Regions from separate parts of the Homo sapiens genome. Here region 2 is linked to region 1. The links come from fine-mapping of genetic effects on gene expression. A gene starts in region 1. The other region holds a variant in brackets. All regions are shown on one strand. Distances are from middle to middle. Region 1 holds the start of MEIS3 (Meis homeobox 3). Region 2 overlaps C5AR1 (complement C5a receptor 1).

The links. PIP is the estimated chance that this variant, and not a neighbour inherited with it, causes the effect.
Region 2: its variant is fine-mapped to the expression of MEIS3 in whole blood (TOPMed, PIP 0.93).

What each region holds. Positions count from the first base shown.
Region 1 is chr19:47,415,445-47,423,769 of GRCh38, forward strand. MEIS3 (Meis homeobox 3) reads right to left here and starts at 4,083. Exons shown (of 13, transcript NM_001301059.2): 1 at 3,626-4,083; 2 at 1,734-1,906; 3 at 1,360-1,519; 4 at 1,208-1,258. The coding sequence starts at 3,637. RefSeq lists enhancers at 2,177-3,169, 3,170-4,163.
Region 2 is chr19:47,315,639-47,323,963 of GRCh38, forward strand. C5AR1 (complement C5a receptor 1) reads left to right here. Exons shown (of 2, transcript NM_001736.4): 2 at 4,143-6,428. The coding sequence ends at 5,192. Among named protein-coding and RNA genes, the nearest start is that of C5AR1, 9.9 kb to the left of the region's middle. RefSeq lists an enhancer at 1-28. The variant G/A (reference allele first, on the strand shown) is at 3,960.

The DNA.
Region 1 (8,325 bases):
CACCTGCAAGCTACATTTCCCAGAACACTTGCCAAAGGGTTTGGCCAATAGGAAGCCCTGGCAAGAGCTTGGGGAGCAAAGGATGGGAGAAGCTGGGTATTCCTCCCTCCTTTCTTCTCTCTCTCTCTCTTTTTTTTTTTTTTTTTTGATATGGAGTCTTGCTCTGTTGCCCAGGCTGGAATGCAGTGGTGTGATCTTGGCTCACTGCAACCTCTGCCTCCCAGGTTCAAGCGATTCTCCTGCCTCAGCCTCCTGAGTAGCTGGGACTACAGGCGTGCACCACTGTGCCCAGCTAATTTTTGTATTTTTAGTAGAGACAGGGTTTCATCATTTGGTCAGGCTGGTCTCGAACTCCTGACCTCAGGTGATCTGCTTGCCTCAGCCTCCCAAAGTGCTGGGATTACAAGCATGAGCCACCGCACCCGGCCCTCTTTTTCTTTCTTTCTTTCTCTTTCTCTAGCTCTCTATGAGAGACAGGGTCTTGCCCTGTTGCCTGGGCTGGTATGCAGTGGAGCTGATCAAGGGTCACTACAGCCTCGACCTCTTGGGGCTCAAGCGATCCTCCCGCCTCAGCCTCCAAAGTAGCTGAGACCACAGGTGCATGCCACCACACCCCGCTAATTAAATGTTTTTGTAGAGGTGGGGTCTCGCTACGTTGCCCAGGCTGGTCTCGATCCCTGGCCTCAAGCTATCTCCTGGCCTTGGCCTCCCAAAGTGCTGGCATTACAGGCGTGAGCTGCCGCACCCAGCCTCCTCTCCTTGGGCAGCAGTCCCTGCGCTCACTTTGGCATAGGTGCTGATCTTCTGACGGATGGAACATCAGACACTTTTTGAGCCCTATTCTGTGCCAGGTGCTGTTCCACGCACTTGAATCGCATTCACTCATTAAACCCCCACAGCAGCCCTCCAAGACAGACATTACTACCAGCCACACTTCACAGACGGGACACCAAGGCACGGAGATGCAGAGTGACTTGCCCTGGGTCACAGAGCTGGTGAGTGGCAGAGCTGGGATTTGAACTCGGGCCATGGGTCCCGTTCTCAGACTCTAGGCTGTACCACACGGCACGTGGGCAACAATCATGACGGTTTGGGGACATGGACCAGGTGGCCTTCTCTCTGCACCCCCCCCACCAACCCCAGGGATGGGGCGTCAGGGAAGGAGACCCATTGGAGGAGGGGGTGTGGGGGAGGGCTCGGGTCTCACCAGATTGTCCAGTTCTGGGTTGGAGGAGAAGAGGGGCCTCTCAGAGCGAACCTGGGAGGGAAGAGAGAGGCCGGCAGGGGGATGTCCCGCCTTCCACCCACCCCTCCTCGCTGGCTCTCTGACTCGGTGTGTGGTGGGTGGGAGGTGCCCACCTGCTTGGCAAAGGCAGCGATGTCCTCGTTGAAGGAATCAGAGGAGCAGACGTCACCTCCAGGGGGTGTCCCCAGCCCAGCTCCGGCCCCGTCACGGGGAGAGCATGTAGCCAGTTCACATTTCTCAAAGACCAGGGCCAAGAGGGGGAAGAGCGGGTGTCTGGGGAGGCAGGAAAGGAGAGAGGTTGAGGGAGAGGCTGGGAGGTGGATGGAGGGGCTGCCAAGATGCAGAACAGCTGGGGAGGGGACAAGAGACCCAGAGAGGGAAGGAGACAGAGACTCGTACACAGAGAGAGACAGAAGCAGACCCAGGGAGCAAAGAAGCAGAAAGACAGAGAGAGAGAGACAGGAGCCTGAGACCCGGCCCCACTCACCCATAGATCTCATCCTTCTCCCTCTTCAGGCCGTCGCTGTCCAAGCCTGGGGGCAGGGGCTGGGGAGGCCGGTGCGGGCCATAGGGCCCTGGTACTGCGGGCACTGTCTCTGGGAAGCTAGCCAGGGCTGCGGGGCCATCCACGATGCCTGGGTAGTGCGGCAGCTCATCATACTGGGGGAAGGTGAGAAGAGAAGGGCGGAGCCCCAGGGAGGGGTCAGCACCCCGAGACTCGGCTGAGGAGCTTCTCTATCCTGGAACCCAGGAGATGCCCTTCTGTGTCCCAGAAACCTGCCTGTGGTCCCCAGGTGTCTGAGCCCCCAAGCTTGAAGCCCTCCAGGTCCCCTGGAGCTGCCTCGGTGGGGAGTGAGGACCCCGTCCAGGCAGAGATTCCTGACATGTGGGCAGGAGGACCCAGAGGGAGAGACGGCAGGGTCTGGCTGGGAGGGAAAAGAGATGGAGAAAGTGGCGTGAGAAGACAGTGACAGAGACAGAGAGAGAGACAGACAGAGAGGGAGATCCATGGACACCTCCTGTAGGAACCGCGCATTGTTGTACACAAAGTACACATACGAAGCCTCCCTGTCTTCTATTTCATTTCACAGTTGGCAGATAAGCGCATCAGAGTAAGTCTCAACAACATGTCACACTCCACTCGCCACGTGAATCTACCACACATGTAGACACAGCCATACACACCAACCCACGTGCACACTCATGTGTCAGTCACACCCAAATCCCCCCCCCCACACACACATGCACACACACATGCACACAGCCCAACACCAGGCACAAGAATGAATGCATGATTGAGACATTTGGCACATGGATGAATGAATGAATGAGGCATTTAGCACAGGGCCTGGCTCATGCTGTGAGCACTTGTTGCCGGAGAGGGTCACTCCGCACCACCATACAGACACGATTGCGCACCCAAGAGAAACACCATTATGGGGTAGGACGACCGCGTCCTGTCGTCACAGAACCATGCACCTGGGAAGCCAGGGGCACCTTCCTCTCATCAGGTCAAATCCCTTCCTCAGTGATGAAGACACGGAGGCTCAAAGAGGCAGCAGGACTCGCACGGGAAGAGGCTAGAACGTTCCTGCCTCGGACCCTCGCCTGGCTGGGCACCCTGGTTCTGTGTGTCCCACTCTTTCCCTCTCCCTCTTCTCCTAACTTCTCCTGTGCCCTGAAGTTGAATCCAACTGCTCCCCGCTGCTCAAGGCACTCTCACCAAAAGCGGTCCTCACAGCCTACCCGGAACCCCCAAAACGGGCGCGCGCCTCCTCCCCTGTCTTCTATCCCCGTTCCCATCCCCAGGGAGACAGGCTCCGTGGGGCCAGCAGCCTGGTGAGACCACCTCTCCCACCCCTGTCCCACTCCTAGCCCTGGAGAGGCAGGGGCGGCTTGGAACAAAAGTAGAGCGAAGGGAAGGACGGAGGAGAGCAGAAAAAAGGGGGGACGGTGAGGTGCGGGCGGCTGAGATGGAGGAGGAAGCCCAGGAACAGAGGAGAGAGACTGCGGGTGGGGGAGGGCAGAGAGAGGGGGATAGAGAGGCAGAAAGAGGGGGGAGACCAGGGACAGAGAGAGGGGGACAGAGAGGCAGAAAGGAGGAGGAGAGTGGGGCAGACAGAGGGGGACAGAGGGGCAGGGAGAAGGAGAAGCTAAACGATGGGGAGGAGGCGAGGCCGAGGGCCAGGAAGAGACACTTGGGGGCAGAGAGGGGGCACACAGGGACTGGGAGACCCAGGGGCGGAGGGAGGGGCAGAGAGAGAGCGAGGTGGTGTAGAGGACGGATGGGCTAATGGGGGCCAGCGCCGGAGAGTGGGGGATGCAGGGACAGGGGGTGCGGAAGCGGCCGGGACGCGGGGTCCCCGCCCCGAGACCTACCCTCCGGGCCATGGGCTGAGGCCGGCGGCAGCTCCTGGGTCCCTCCAGAGCCTGGCCGCGGGGGAGGGCGCAGCCCGGGGCCGCAGCCCCTGACGGCCCGCGGTGTTGACGCCAGGGGGTGGGCAGGAGGCCAGGCGCGCGCCCCCCCACCCCCGCCGCCGTCAGCGGCAGGCGCCGGGCCGGGTGGGGACTCCGCGCATGGACCCCGGCCCCCGCCCCCAGCGGGGGTCACGGCCAGGAGCGCATCGCCGCCGGGGCGGGGGCAGCAGGCGCAGGCGGGGCGCCCGAGGCCCCCTCCTCTGGGCCCCCCCCGTCCCTTCCCCGGCTCTGGAGGGAATCGAACCGTCCCGAGACGGACACACCGGGGACCGCAGGGGGCGGGGGGCGGCCCGGGGCGACGGAGGGTCCGGCGGCGGCTCAGGGGTGCTGGCAGCCGCGCTCCCCGTTCCCGGTCTCTCCCTTGTCTTGTGGAAATTAAACAGAACCACCAAGGAGCGGGATAGGGGATGAGCCAGAGTGAGCCTGCAGAGCTACAGCACGAGGGATTGGGGTTAGGGCAGCAGCAGCACTTCCGGTGGGAGTCGGGGAGGGGCAGGCTGTGGGGGGAGGAGAGGAAGAGACCGCGGCCCTGGTGCCCCCAGGCCCCTCCTCTCCTACCCAGGGCTGGGGTTCCTGCTCCGGGTTTCTCAGTCTCCCTCTTTCCCAGTCTCTCTCTCCTTGTCTCTCTCTGTCTCCGCTTCTCCCGTCCTTTCTCTCCTCTGGCTCTCTGTTCTCCGAGCCCCCTGGACACACCACGGACCCCCTCCCTGGCCATCTCCAGGGGTCACGTGGGAATCTGGAGTCTGGTCCCACCGTAGGCTCTCCCCTCTCTGAGGCTCGATTCCCCCTCTGCAGGATGGGCAGTGCGCTGGGGGCGGCGGGGGTGGGCTGTGGATAACGGAGAAACAGTTAAGCTAGAGGGTGCCAGGACTCAGGGTCTTGGCTGAGTCTGGGGGTCCCCATGCCGGCGGGCTCTGCCCCCGTGGCTGTCCTGCGGTGAGGCTGGCCGTTTAAGGCAGTCCGAGGGGAAGGGTCTGGAGGCCTTGCCTTTCCTCAAGGCCGGCGCACCCCAGATAGGGGTTTTGGAGCAGAAAATTAATTTAAATCACTTTTTAATTAAAGACACAAGGCCCTTTGGTCTGCTCCACCCCCACCTCACCCTCAGCCAAGACTTGGGGTGAGGGATGCAAGGGTTAGGAGTCTCTGGCTCTATTTGCTTTTTTGGGGGGTGGTGCATGCTAAGGTCCCCTTAGCCCAGGCTGATTCTGAAACCTAGAGGAGCAAGTGCGGCCTCATCTGACGGCCAGTGGTGGGGGGCGTGGACAGAGCAGGAAGGGAGGGAGGGGGCACCTGGGATGGGGATGGGGCCTAACTGGAGTGGGGAGGGAGGTAACTCCAGTGACGGTGTGATTCAGAGAGAGAGAGAGACAGAGACAGACGCGGGTGGGAGGAGAGAGAGAGAGAGGTGCAGACAGAGTGAGACAGACAGGAGGGGGAGGGAGTGGGGGACAGGAGCTCCAATAGAGACCCTGGAGTCGTCCCTGCCACCCCCAAAACAAGAGCAGGGGGCTTGGACTCTGAAGCATAAATCTTTCTAATTAAAGAAAGAGACGAGCTGTTGGGAAGGGAGAAATAAGTGTGTGGGAGAGAAATTGATTGGGGGAGGATGGAGGATGCCGGCGGGGGACGGAGGGAGCAGGGGGGAGGCTCCGGCTTTCTGAGGCTCTTCCTCCAGTCTTTCCCTCTGTCTGTCCATCCGTCTGTCTGTCCGTCTCTGTCTCTCGCTCTCTCTCTCTCTCTCTCACACACACACACACACACACACACACACACTCTCTCTCTCTCTCTCTCTCTCTCTCTCTCTCTTCCTGGCTGTCTCCCTTAAATAGTCCTGGGACCCTTCTGTTCCCAGGGGGAGGGAGCAGGTGGCGGCCAGGCCTGGTGCTGGAGCGGGGGTGCCTGTGTCACTGCGTCGCGGCTGCCTGTCGGCTCTTCGAGGGTGTGCTTGGGCCTCCCTGTGACAGTGTCTGGAAGCGTCTTCCCTGCCCGGCTGAGTGGCTCCCTGGGTGGCATCAGAGTGACCCCAGCTCCCAGTCTGCAGGGGTCTCCGCCCTCTAGCCCTGTCCTGCACCTGTTTTACAGACGGGAAGCGTGGAGCCCTCTATGAGTAGATCTGGGGGACCTCATGGGTCTCCCCAGCACGGGCTGGGCGATCTCTCAGCGGACTGGCCCTTCAGTGCCCCAACCTGAGCACCGACCACTGGGGCTATGCCCACCAGGCAGCCACGTCCCCCGGGGATCCGCAGTGGTCCCCAGGATCCCCTCTGAAAGCCTACAGGAGCAGACCGAATGAACGAGGATCCACCTTGGGTTCCTCCTGTCCTCTCTCTCGGGCCTGCTAGCCTCCTGCCTCGGTTTCCCCTCTTTATCAACCGCTCTGTGTCTGTCTCTCTCCTTCTGGGGGCCCAGGTTTGCTTCCTCCTCCTCATTCCAGGCTCTCTCTGAGAATCTGTGTCTCTGCTCAGGAGGGTGGGGGAAGAAGGGACCCTAAAAGACAGGCCGTCTCTGTCTCCATCTCCGCCTGGGCTATGTCTGTCTGTCTGTCACCTGGGCTGTGTCTGTCTGTCTGTCTCCTGGCTTTTTTTTTTTTTCTTGTATCTCTGTGTCTCTTTGTCTGGATGTCTTCTCTGCCTCATCTTTCTTATCTCTCTTTCTCTCCATCTTTCTCGGTCTCTCTCTCCAGGGGCCTCTGTCTCTTCTCCCTCCTTCCTCTCCCTCTCTCCGCCTCCCTGTCCCCCCCACCGTATCCTCCCTGGGCTTCTGTCTCCCTGGCTCTCTCCCCTCTCCTCCACCCGGGCCCTTCATAAATACATCGCCCCCTTCCCGTCCTCCCGCTGCCTGGCCCAGCTCCAGGAGAAGGAAACATTTATCTTGGTGGGGGCGCCCACCCCTGCGCCCGCCCCTCCGCCCGCTGGCCACGCCATCCATCACCCGAGCCCAGACTCCTGTGGCTCATTCGTCACCGGCCCTGACAAATGCCTGCCGCCCCCTTCCCCTCCCGCCCCACCAAGCAATCATACCATTAGCCACGGCTCAGCGGTGGCGGGAAGGACCCGGCCTGACCCGGGCGGGGGGCGGGGCACAGGCTGCGGCTCCCACCGAGACCCCTCTCTCCCTCTTTTCCTTCCCTTTCTATCTCTCCTCGCCCTCTCCGTCTTTTTTGTTGGAATCTGCTTTCCTCTGCCAGTTTCTCGCTGTGCCTCTGGGTCCTGTCTCCGGTCCGTCCTCCTCCTCATCCTCCTTTTCCTCACCCTCTCTCCTTCTCTCCTTCTGTCTCTGTCTCTCTCTTACTGAGTCTCTTTCCAGTTCTGACTCTGTCTCTGTGTCTCTCTATAACTGTATCTCTCTGTCTCTGCCCGTCTGTCTCTCCCTCTCTGTCTCTCATCTCTCTCTGTCTCTCCCTCTCTGCCTCTCCATCTCTCTCTCTGTCTCTCCACTCTGTCTCTCCCTCTGTCTCTCCCTCTCTGTGTCTCTTCATCTCTCTGTTGCTCCCTCTCTCTCTGTCTCTCCATCTCTGTCTCTCCCTCTCTCTCTGTCTCTCCATCTCTCTGTCTCTCCATCTCTCTCTGTCTCTCCATCTCTGTCTCTCTATCTCTCTCTGTCTCTCCTTCTCTCTCTGTCTCTTCATCTCTGTCTCTCCCTCTCTGTCTCTCCATTTCTTTCTCTGTCTCTCCATCTCTCTGTCTCTACCTCTCTCTCCATCTGTCTCTCCCTCTTGCTCTCTGTCTCTCCATTTCTCTCTGTGTCTCTCCTTCTCTGTCTCTTCATCTCTATCTCTCCCTCTCTGTCTCTCCATTTCTCTCTGTCTCTCTCTTTCTGTCTCTCCCTCTCTCTCCCTCTCTCTCTGTCTCTCCCTCTCTCTCCATCTCTCTCTGTCTCTCCCTCTTGGGGTCTGTCTCTCCATTTCTGTCTGTCTCACCATCTCTCTGTCTCTCCATTTCTCTCTGTCTCTGTCTCTCTCTGTCTCTCCATTTCTCTCTCTGTCCCTCCCTCTCTCTCTGTCTCTCCATCTCTCTCTGTCTCTCCATCTCTCTCTGTCTCTCCCTCTGTCTCTGTGTGTCTCTCTCCCTGTCTCTCCATGTCCCTCTGTCTGCCATGGGCTCTGTCGGCCCAGCCGTGCCTTTTAAATCTCTGGTCTCTGAGAGTACCCTCGGCGTTGGCCTCACTGGCTTTGTGTGCTGGGAATGGGGTGAGGGTCTTGCCCTGGCGCCCTGGGACGCCCGCCCCGCCCCGCTCCCCACCTCGCTCTCCTCCCTGGTGCTGTGTTCTGAGTCTCTGGGCTTCCTCCGTCTGCATCTTCTCTGCATCCTGTCTGTATCTCTGTCTCTGCTGCCTCTCCGGCCCCTGTGTTTTGTTCTTGGCTCTCTGCTCCCTCTCCAACTTCCCCTCCTCTTTTTGTGTCCCTTCTCCACCTCCTCCACCGTCTGTGTTCCCCCTCTACTGACCCCACCTACCCCTTTCAATCCACCACCCATGACATTCCCTTCCCCGCACTTCCCCAGGGAGAGAATTGCAGGGAGCAGGCAGGGAACGGGAGGCAAAGGTGGCGAGAAGGAGAGAGTGAGGAGGTACCTTGGGAGGCACTGAAGCCTGGAGCCTCA
Region 2 (8,325 bases), 100 kb before region 1:
GCAGGGTCTAGGGCCTCCTGCTGCACCTAGCATTAACTCTTTAGTGACATGAACATGGCGACCTGGAGTGGGGGTGTCCCAGAGTAGGAAACAGGAACTTAGGGTGCTGGGAGCGGGCAATAGAAGAAGTGGGTGGCTGAGGGCAGGGGCTGTTTACCAGTGAAAATATTTTTAAAAATGTTAACCTTCTATTTGGAAATATTTTCAAACTTACGGAAAAATGACAAGAATGGAACAGGCTCATATACATATACATTTTACCTAGACTCTCCAAATTTACTGTATCTGTCTCTCCATTATCCATCCATCCATCCATCCATCTGTCCATCGATTCATCCATCCATCCATCCATCCATCCATCCGTTATCTAGCTATTTTTTTTTTTTAGACAGAGTCTTGTTCTGTTGCCCAGGCTGGAGGGCAGTGGCGCAATCTTGACTCACTGCAACCTCCACCTCCCAGGTTCAAGCGATTCTCCTGCCTCAGCCTCCCAAGTAGCTGGGACTACAGGCACACACCACTGGGCCCAGCTAATTTTTTTGTACTTTTAGTGGAGATGGGGTTTCACTATGTTGGCCAGGCTGGTCTTGATCTTCTGGCCTCAAGTGATTACAGGCATGAGCCACCATGCCCAGCCCATTATCTATGTATCTATCATCTATCTATCTATCATCTATCTCTCAATCATATCTCCATGTATCCATTGTCTGTCCATCAGTCATCTATCTGTCCATCATCCATGCATCCACTCATTCACCCATTCGTTATCTATCCATCCGTTTATTTATATCCATCCATCTTTCTATCACCTTTTTTTTTTTTTGAGACAGAGTCTTGCTCAGTCAAGGCTGGAGTGCATTGGCATGATCTCAGCTTACTGCAACCTCCGCCTCCCAGGTTCAAGTGATTCTCCTGCCTCAGTCTCTGGAGTAGCTGGGATTACAGGTGCGCGCCAACACTCTGGCTAATTTTTGTATTTTTAATGGCCTTTTGTGACTGGCTTCTTTCACTTAGCATCATGTTTTCAAGATTCATCCACATTGCAGCATGTGTCAGCACTTCCTTTTCATAGCTGAGTAATATTCCACCACGTGGCTAAACCCCACCTTTTTCATTCACTCATTAGCAGATACTGACATCTTATCTTTCAATAATTTACTCATGGATATGATTCCACCAGTAAATGCCCACTGCCCATAGCCTGGCTAACCTTGGGCAGGTGCAATGTAAGGGAACTAGAAAAAAAAAAACAAAACTATCCAGGCATGGTGGCTTACATCTGTAATCTCAGCACTTTGGGAGTTCAAGGCAGGAGGGTTGCTTGAAGTTAGGAGTTTGAGACCAGCCTGTGCAACAAAGCGAGACCCATCTCTACCAAAAAAAAAAAAGAAAAAAAATACAAAAATTAGCTGGGTGTGGTGGTGCACAATTGTAGTCCTAGCTACTCAAGAGGCTGAGGCAGGAGGATTGCTTGAGCCAGAGGGGCTGGGGTGACAGTGATCCATGATTGCACCACTGCACATAAGCCTGGGTGACAGATCAAGACCCCGTCTCAAAAAAAAAAAAAAAAAAAAAATATAAAACGGGGCTGGGCGTGGTGGTTCATGCCTGTAATCCCAGCACTTTGGGAGACCAAGGCCGGAGGATTGCTTGAACCCAGGAGTTCGAGACCAGCCTGGGCAATACAGTGAGACCCTCCTCTTTAAAAAAACATTAAAAATTAGCTGGGCACAGTAGTATGCACCTGTAGTCCCAGCTGCTTGGGAGGCTGAGGCAAGAGGATCACTTGAGCCTGAGAAGTCAAGGCTGCAGTGAGCCAAGATCACACCCCTGAGCTACAGCCTGGGTGACAGAGTGAGACTCAGTCTCAAAAAAAAAAAAATATATATATATATATAGTGGTTCAGGGATGTGGATCTGAGCTCTTCAATAACTGACAAATAATAATACCAATGGCTGCCACTTCTTGTCCTCTTCTCTGTGTCAGGCGCTGTGCTAGGTGCTTAGGCATTTTTCATCTTATTTAATCTTTGAGGTGAGTGTTTTAAAGGTAGAAAAACCAGGCCGGGTGTGGTGGCTCATGCCTGTAATCCCAGCATTTTGGGAGGCCAAGGCAGGCAGATCACGAGGTCAGGAGTTCGAGACCAGCCTGACCAACATGGTGGAACCCTGTCTCTACTAAAAATACAAAAATTAGCAGGGTGTGGTGGCAGGTGCCTTTAGTCCCAGCTACTCAGGAGGCTGAGGCAGGAGAATCGCTTGAACCTGGGAGGCAGAGGTTGCAGTGACCCGAGATCGTGCCACTGCAGTCCAGCGTGGCGACAGAGTGAGACTCCATCTCAAAAAAAAAAAAAAAATGTACAAAACTCCATCTGCAAATTCAAATATTTAGAGCTGCAAATACAGCTCTCAGTATTTCCAGAATGATTTCTATTTCTTGCTGTCCCCTTTTCTCTGGGTTGGTGTCAAAGTGGCCTTCAGGACTGGGCTAGCTCCATAGGTCACAAAACTCACCTCTTGGAAATGGTCAGGGGCAGCCTGTCTGGTTTGCATTCCAGCCCGTATGGGTTCACATCCTCTCTGAGTGACCTGGAACAGCCTACTTCACCTTCTGGTGCCTCGTGCTTCTTCATCAGCGAAATGGGCATTTTTTTTTCTTTCTTTTTTTTTTTTGAGGTGGAGTCTCACTCTGTCGCCCAGGCTGGAGTGCAGTGTCGCTATCTCAGCTCATTGCAACTTCCACCTCCCAGGTTCAAGTGATTCTCCTGCCTCAGCCTCCCGAGTAGCTGGGATTACAGGTGCCCGCCACCACGCCTGGCTAATTTTTGTATTTTTAGTAGAGACGGGGTTTCACCATGTTGGCCAGGCTGGTCTCGAACCCCTGACCTCAGGTGATCTGCCCACCTTGGCTTCCCAAAGTGCTTGGGTTATAGGTGTGCACCACCACACCTGGCCTGAAATGGGCATATTAACAGAACCTCCTTGTAGGTTGTGGTCAGGATGGAAAGAGCAAATTCCATGCCGCATGCATAGTAGGTGCTCAGTAAGTACTGGCTGCTTTCGGGTGATCACTCAGTGCCCTGATGGGTGCTTTACTGCAGTGTCTGGTGCCTCTGGACACAGATTTCACCTACAAGGCTTTCTCCAGTCCAGCTGCCATGGACTGCAGCCTTTCTTTCTTGGGTGCATGACAGCTTCCTTCAGCTCTGTCTGGGAAGAAGTGATCAGGACCTTTTTGTTCTATTTTTTTTTTTTTTTTTTTTTTTAGATGGAGTCTCACTCTGTTACCCAGGCTGGAGTGCAATGGGGCTGTTTCGGCTCACTGCAACCTCTGCCTCCTGGGTTCAAGCAAGTCTTCTGCCTCAGCCTCCCAAGTAGCTGGGATTACAGGCGCCCACTACCACGCCTGGCTAATTTTTGTATTTTTAGTAGAGGCGGGGTTTCACTACATTGGTCAGGCTGATCTTCAACTCCTGACCTCGTGATCCACCCACCTCGGCCTCCCAAAGTGCTGGATTACAGGTGTGAGCCACCGTGCCCGGCCAGTAGGGCTAGACTTTGACGTTAGGCTGCTGGATCGTGGGGAAGCCCAGGGGCTTCGCAGGATGGGACTGAGGGGAGAGGTGGCAGACTGGCAAGGGGTCCAACTAGCATGGAATCATTTCATTTTTTTTTTTTTTTTTTTTTTGAGACAGGGTCTCACTCTGTCACCTAAGCTGGAGTGCAATGGTATGATCTCGGCTCACTCTAACCTCTGCCTCCTGGGGTCAGGTGATCCTCCTACCTCAGCCTCCGGAGTAGCTGGGACTACAGGCAAGTGCAACCACGCCTGGCTAATTTTTGTATTTTCAGTAGAGACGGGGTTTTGCCATGTTGCCCAGGCTATTCTCAAACTCCTGGGCTCAAGCAGTCCGCCCGCCTCGGCCTCCCAAAGTGCTGGGATGACAGGCGTGAGCTAC[G/A]GCATCTGCCTCAATATTTTAATAAGTGGTGTGACACCCTAGTTGACTCTCAGCCCTCAGCATCCCCATTTCCTAGTGAGAAAAAGCCACACAGGGGAAAAGCCACATGCCTGAGCCAGGATGCCCCCTACCCGGGCACATGTCTGCAGACTCATCCTCTCTGCTCTCTCCGATTCCCCTTAGGACTCCTTCAATTATACCACCCCTGATTATGGGCACTATGATGACAAGGATACCCTGGACCTCAACACCCCTGTGGATAAAACTTCTAACACGCTGCGTGTTCCAGACATCCTGGCCTTGGTCATCTTTGCAGTCGTCTTCCTGGTGGGAGTGCTGGGCAATGCCCTGGTGGTCTGGGTGACGGCATTCGAGGCCAAGCGGACCATCAATGCCATCTGGTTCCTCAACTTGGCGGTAGCCGACTTCCTCTCCTGCCTGGCGCTGCCCATCTTGTTCACGTCCATTGTACAGCATCACCACTGGCCCTTTGGCGGGGCCGCCTGCAGCATCCTGCCCTCCCTCATCCTGCTCAACATGTACGCCAGCATCCTGCTCCTGGCCACCATCAGCGCCGACCGCTTTCTGCTGGTGTTTAAACCCATCTGGTGCCAGAACTTCCGAGGGGCTGGCTTGGCCTGGATCGCCTGTGCCGTGGCTTGGGGTTTAGCCCTGCTGCTGACCATACCCTCCTTCCTGTACCGGGTGGTCCGGGAGGAGTACTTTCCACCAAAGGTGTTGTGTGGCGTGGACTACAGCCACGACAAACGGCGGGAGCGAGCCGTGGCCATCGTCCGGCTGGTCCTGGGCTTCCTGTGGCCTCTACTCACGCTCACGATTTGTTACACTTTCATCCTGCTCCGGACGTGGAGCCGCAGGGCCACGCGGTCCACCAAGACACTCAAGGTGGTGGTGGCAGTGGTGGCCAGTTTCTTTATCTTCTGGTTGCCCTACCAGGTGACGGGGATAATGATGTCCTTCCTGGAGCCATCGTCACCCACCTTCCTGCTGCTGAAGAAGCTGGACTCCCTGTGTGTCTCCTTTGCCTACATCAACTGCTGCATCAACCCCATCATCTACGTGGTGGCCGGCCAGGGCTTCCAGGGCCGACTGCGGAAATCCCTCCCCAGCCTCCTCCGGAACGTGTTGACTGAAGAGTCCGTGGTTAGGGAGAGCAAGTCATTCACGCGCTCCACAGTGGACACTATGGCCCAGAAGACCCAGGCAGTGTAGGCGACAGCCTCATGGGCCACTGTGGCCCGATGTCCCCTTCCTTCCCGGCCATTCTCCCTCTTGTTTTCACTTCACTTTTCGTGGGATGGTGTTACCTTAGCTAACTAACTCTCCTCCATGTTGCCTGTCTTTCCCAGACTTGTCCCTCCTTTTCCAGCGGGACTCTTCTCATCCTTCCTCATTTGCAAGGTGAACACTTCCTTCTAGGGAGCACCCTCCCACCCCCCACCCCCCCCACACACACCATCTTTCCATCCCAGGCTTTTGAAAAACAAACAGAAACCCGTGTATCTGGGATATTTCCATATGGCAATAGGTGTGAACAGGGAACTCAGAATACAGACAAGTAGAAAGATTCTCGCTTAAAAAAAATGTATTTATTTTATGGCAAGTTGGAAAATATGTAACTGGAATCTCAAAAGTTCTTTGGGACAAAACAGAAGTCCATGGAGTTATCTAAGCTCTTGTAAGTGAGTTAATTTAAAAAAGAAAATTAGGCTGAGAGCAGTGGCTCACGCCTGTAATCCCAGAACTTTGGGAGGCTAAGGTGGGTGGATCACCTGAGGTCAAGAGTTCCAGACCAGGCTGGCCAGCATGGTGAAACCCCGTCTGTACTAAAAATACAAAAAATTAACTGGGCATGGTAGTGGGTGCCTGTAATCCCAGCTACTTGGGAGGCTGAGGTGGGAGAATTGCTCGAACTTGGAGGTGGAGGTTGTGGTGAGCCATGATCGCACCACTGCACTCTAGCCTGGGTGACCGAGGGAGGCTCTGTCTCAAAAGCAAAGCAAAAACAAAAACAAAAACACCTAAAAAACCTGCAGTTTTGTTTGTACTTTGTTTTTAAATTATGCTTTCTATTTTGAGATCATTGCAAACTCAACACAATTGTAAGTAATGATACAGAGGGATCTTGTGTACCCTTCACCCAGCCTCCCCCAATGGCAACATCTTGCAAAACTACAATGTAGTCTCATAACCAGGATATTGACATTGATACAGTGAAGATACAGGACATTCTCATCACCACAGGGATCCCCAGGATGCCCACTTCCCTCCACCCCCACACCCCAGCCGTGTCCCTAACCCCTGGCAACCAGGAATCCACTCTCCATTTCTATAATGTTGTCATTTCAAGAATGTTATTCAATGGAATCATATAGTATGTAACCTGTTTTGAGCTTAAAAAAAAAGTATACATGACTTTAATGAGGAAAATAAAAATGAATATTGAAATGTTGTGTTATTTCTAGTGAATAATTGACTTTGCAGTAGGTATTAGTCGATTTTCACACTGCTGATAAAGACATACCCAAGACTGGGAAGAAAAAAGAGATTTAATTGGACTTACAGTTCCACATTGCTGGGGAGGTCTCACAGTCATGGCAGGAGGCAAAGGCACTACTTACATGGTAGTGGCAAGAGAAAATGAGGAAGAAGCAAAAGTGGAAACTACTGTGAAACCCATCAGATCTTGTGAGACTTATTAACTATCACAAGAATAGCAAGGGAAAGACCGGACCCCATGATTCAATTATCTCCCCCTGGGTCCCTCCCACAACACATGGGAATTCTGAGAGATACAATTCAAATTGAGATTTGGGTGGGGAGACAGCCAAACCATATCACAATATTTCTGCTTTGATTGTGTAGTGTGCATGTGCATGGATTATCTAGAAATAGCGTGCAGACCAGCCAGCTGTGGTGGCTCATGCCTGTAATCCCAGCACTTTGGGAGGCTGAGGCAGGCAGATCACCTGAGGTCAGGAGTTTGAGACCAGCCTGGCCAACATGGTGAAACCCCGTCTCTACTAAAAATACCAAAATTAGCTGGTGTGTTGGTGCACACCTGTAATCTAAGCTACTTAGGAGGCTGAGGCAGGAGAATTGCTTGAACCCGGGAGGTGGAGGTTGCAGTGAGCCAAGATCATGCCACTGCACTCCAGCCTAGAGTGAGACTCTGTCTCAAAAAAAAAAAAAAAAATTAAATTTAGAACTAGTGTACAGACCCAATGTCGTCCAACAGAAATATGATGTGGGCCACATGTATATCTTTGTTTTCTAGTAGCCACATTAAATAAGTAAAAAGAAATAGATGAAATACTTAATAATATAATACAATCATATGTTATATTAAGAACAATGAGGCTTATGTCTGTAATCCCAGCACTTTGGGAGGCCAGCCTGGGCAACATAGTGAGGCTCCATCTTCAAAAAAATTAGTCTGAGCATGGGGGCTCATGCTTGAAATCCCAGCACTTTGGGAGGCTGAGCTGGGCAGATCACAAAGCCAGGAGTTCGAAATCAGCTTGGCCAACATGGCGAAACCCCATCTCTACTAAAAACACAAAAATTAGCCGGACATGATGATGCACGTCTGTAATCCCAGGTACTCAGGAAGCTAAGGCATGAGAATCACTTGAACCCGGGAGGCAGAGGTTGCAGTGAGCTATGATTGTGGCTCGGCACTCTAGCCTGGGCGACAGAGTGAGACTCTCTCAGAAAAAAAAAAATTTTTTTTTTTAACGAAAAAATTAGCCGGTGTGGTTGGTAGTGCCTGTGGTCCCAGCTACTCGGGATGCCGAGGCTGGAGGATCGCTTGAGCATAGGAGTTTGAGGCTGCAGTGAGTTGTGATGCTGCACTCCAGCTTGGGTGACAGAGCAAGACCCTGTCTCCAAACAAACAAACAAACAAACAAAAAATTGCCTGAGTGTCTCGATGGACAGATGCTGCAGTCTCTTGAGCTTGCAGAAGTGGCTGTGAGTGGTGTCTGTGCCTGCTTGAGAGTAGACGTTGGTACCTGGGACAAGATCCTCTCTGTAACTTGTGCTCATTAGTGCAGATTCCCCAGGCATCGAGGTCACGGGGAAGGACCTGAGCCCCAGCCGCCTTCAGCTCCTGGGGGTGGGCTCCCGGCAGCTCCCTCCTCAAGAAGACAACACCAGCCTCCTGGCCTCCTGGCCTTCTCCCACCTGCTCCGGTCTCTTCCATGGCTGCCCCTGACCTGGATAGTTTCCCTCTGCCTCTTTGCTGGACCTTTCTCCGCGTCCTTTGCAGAGTTTTTTCCTCTTCGACGTTGGCGTTCCTCAGCTGTGTGTCCACCTCATTTGGTGCGCTCACTCCTGCAGCTTC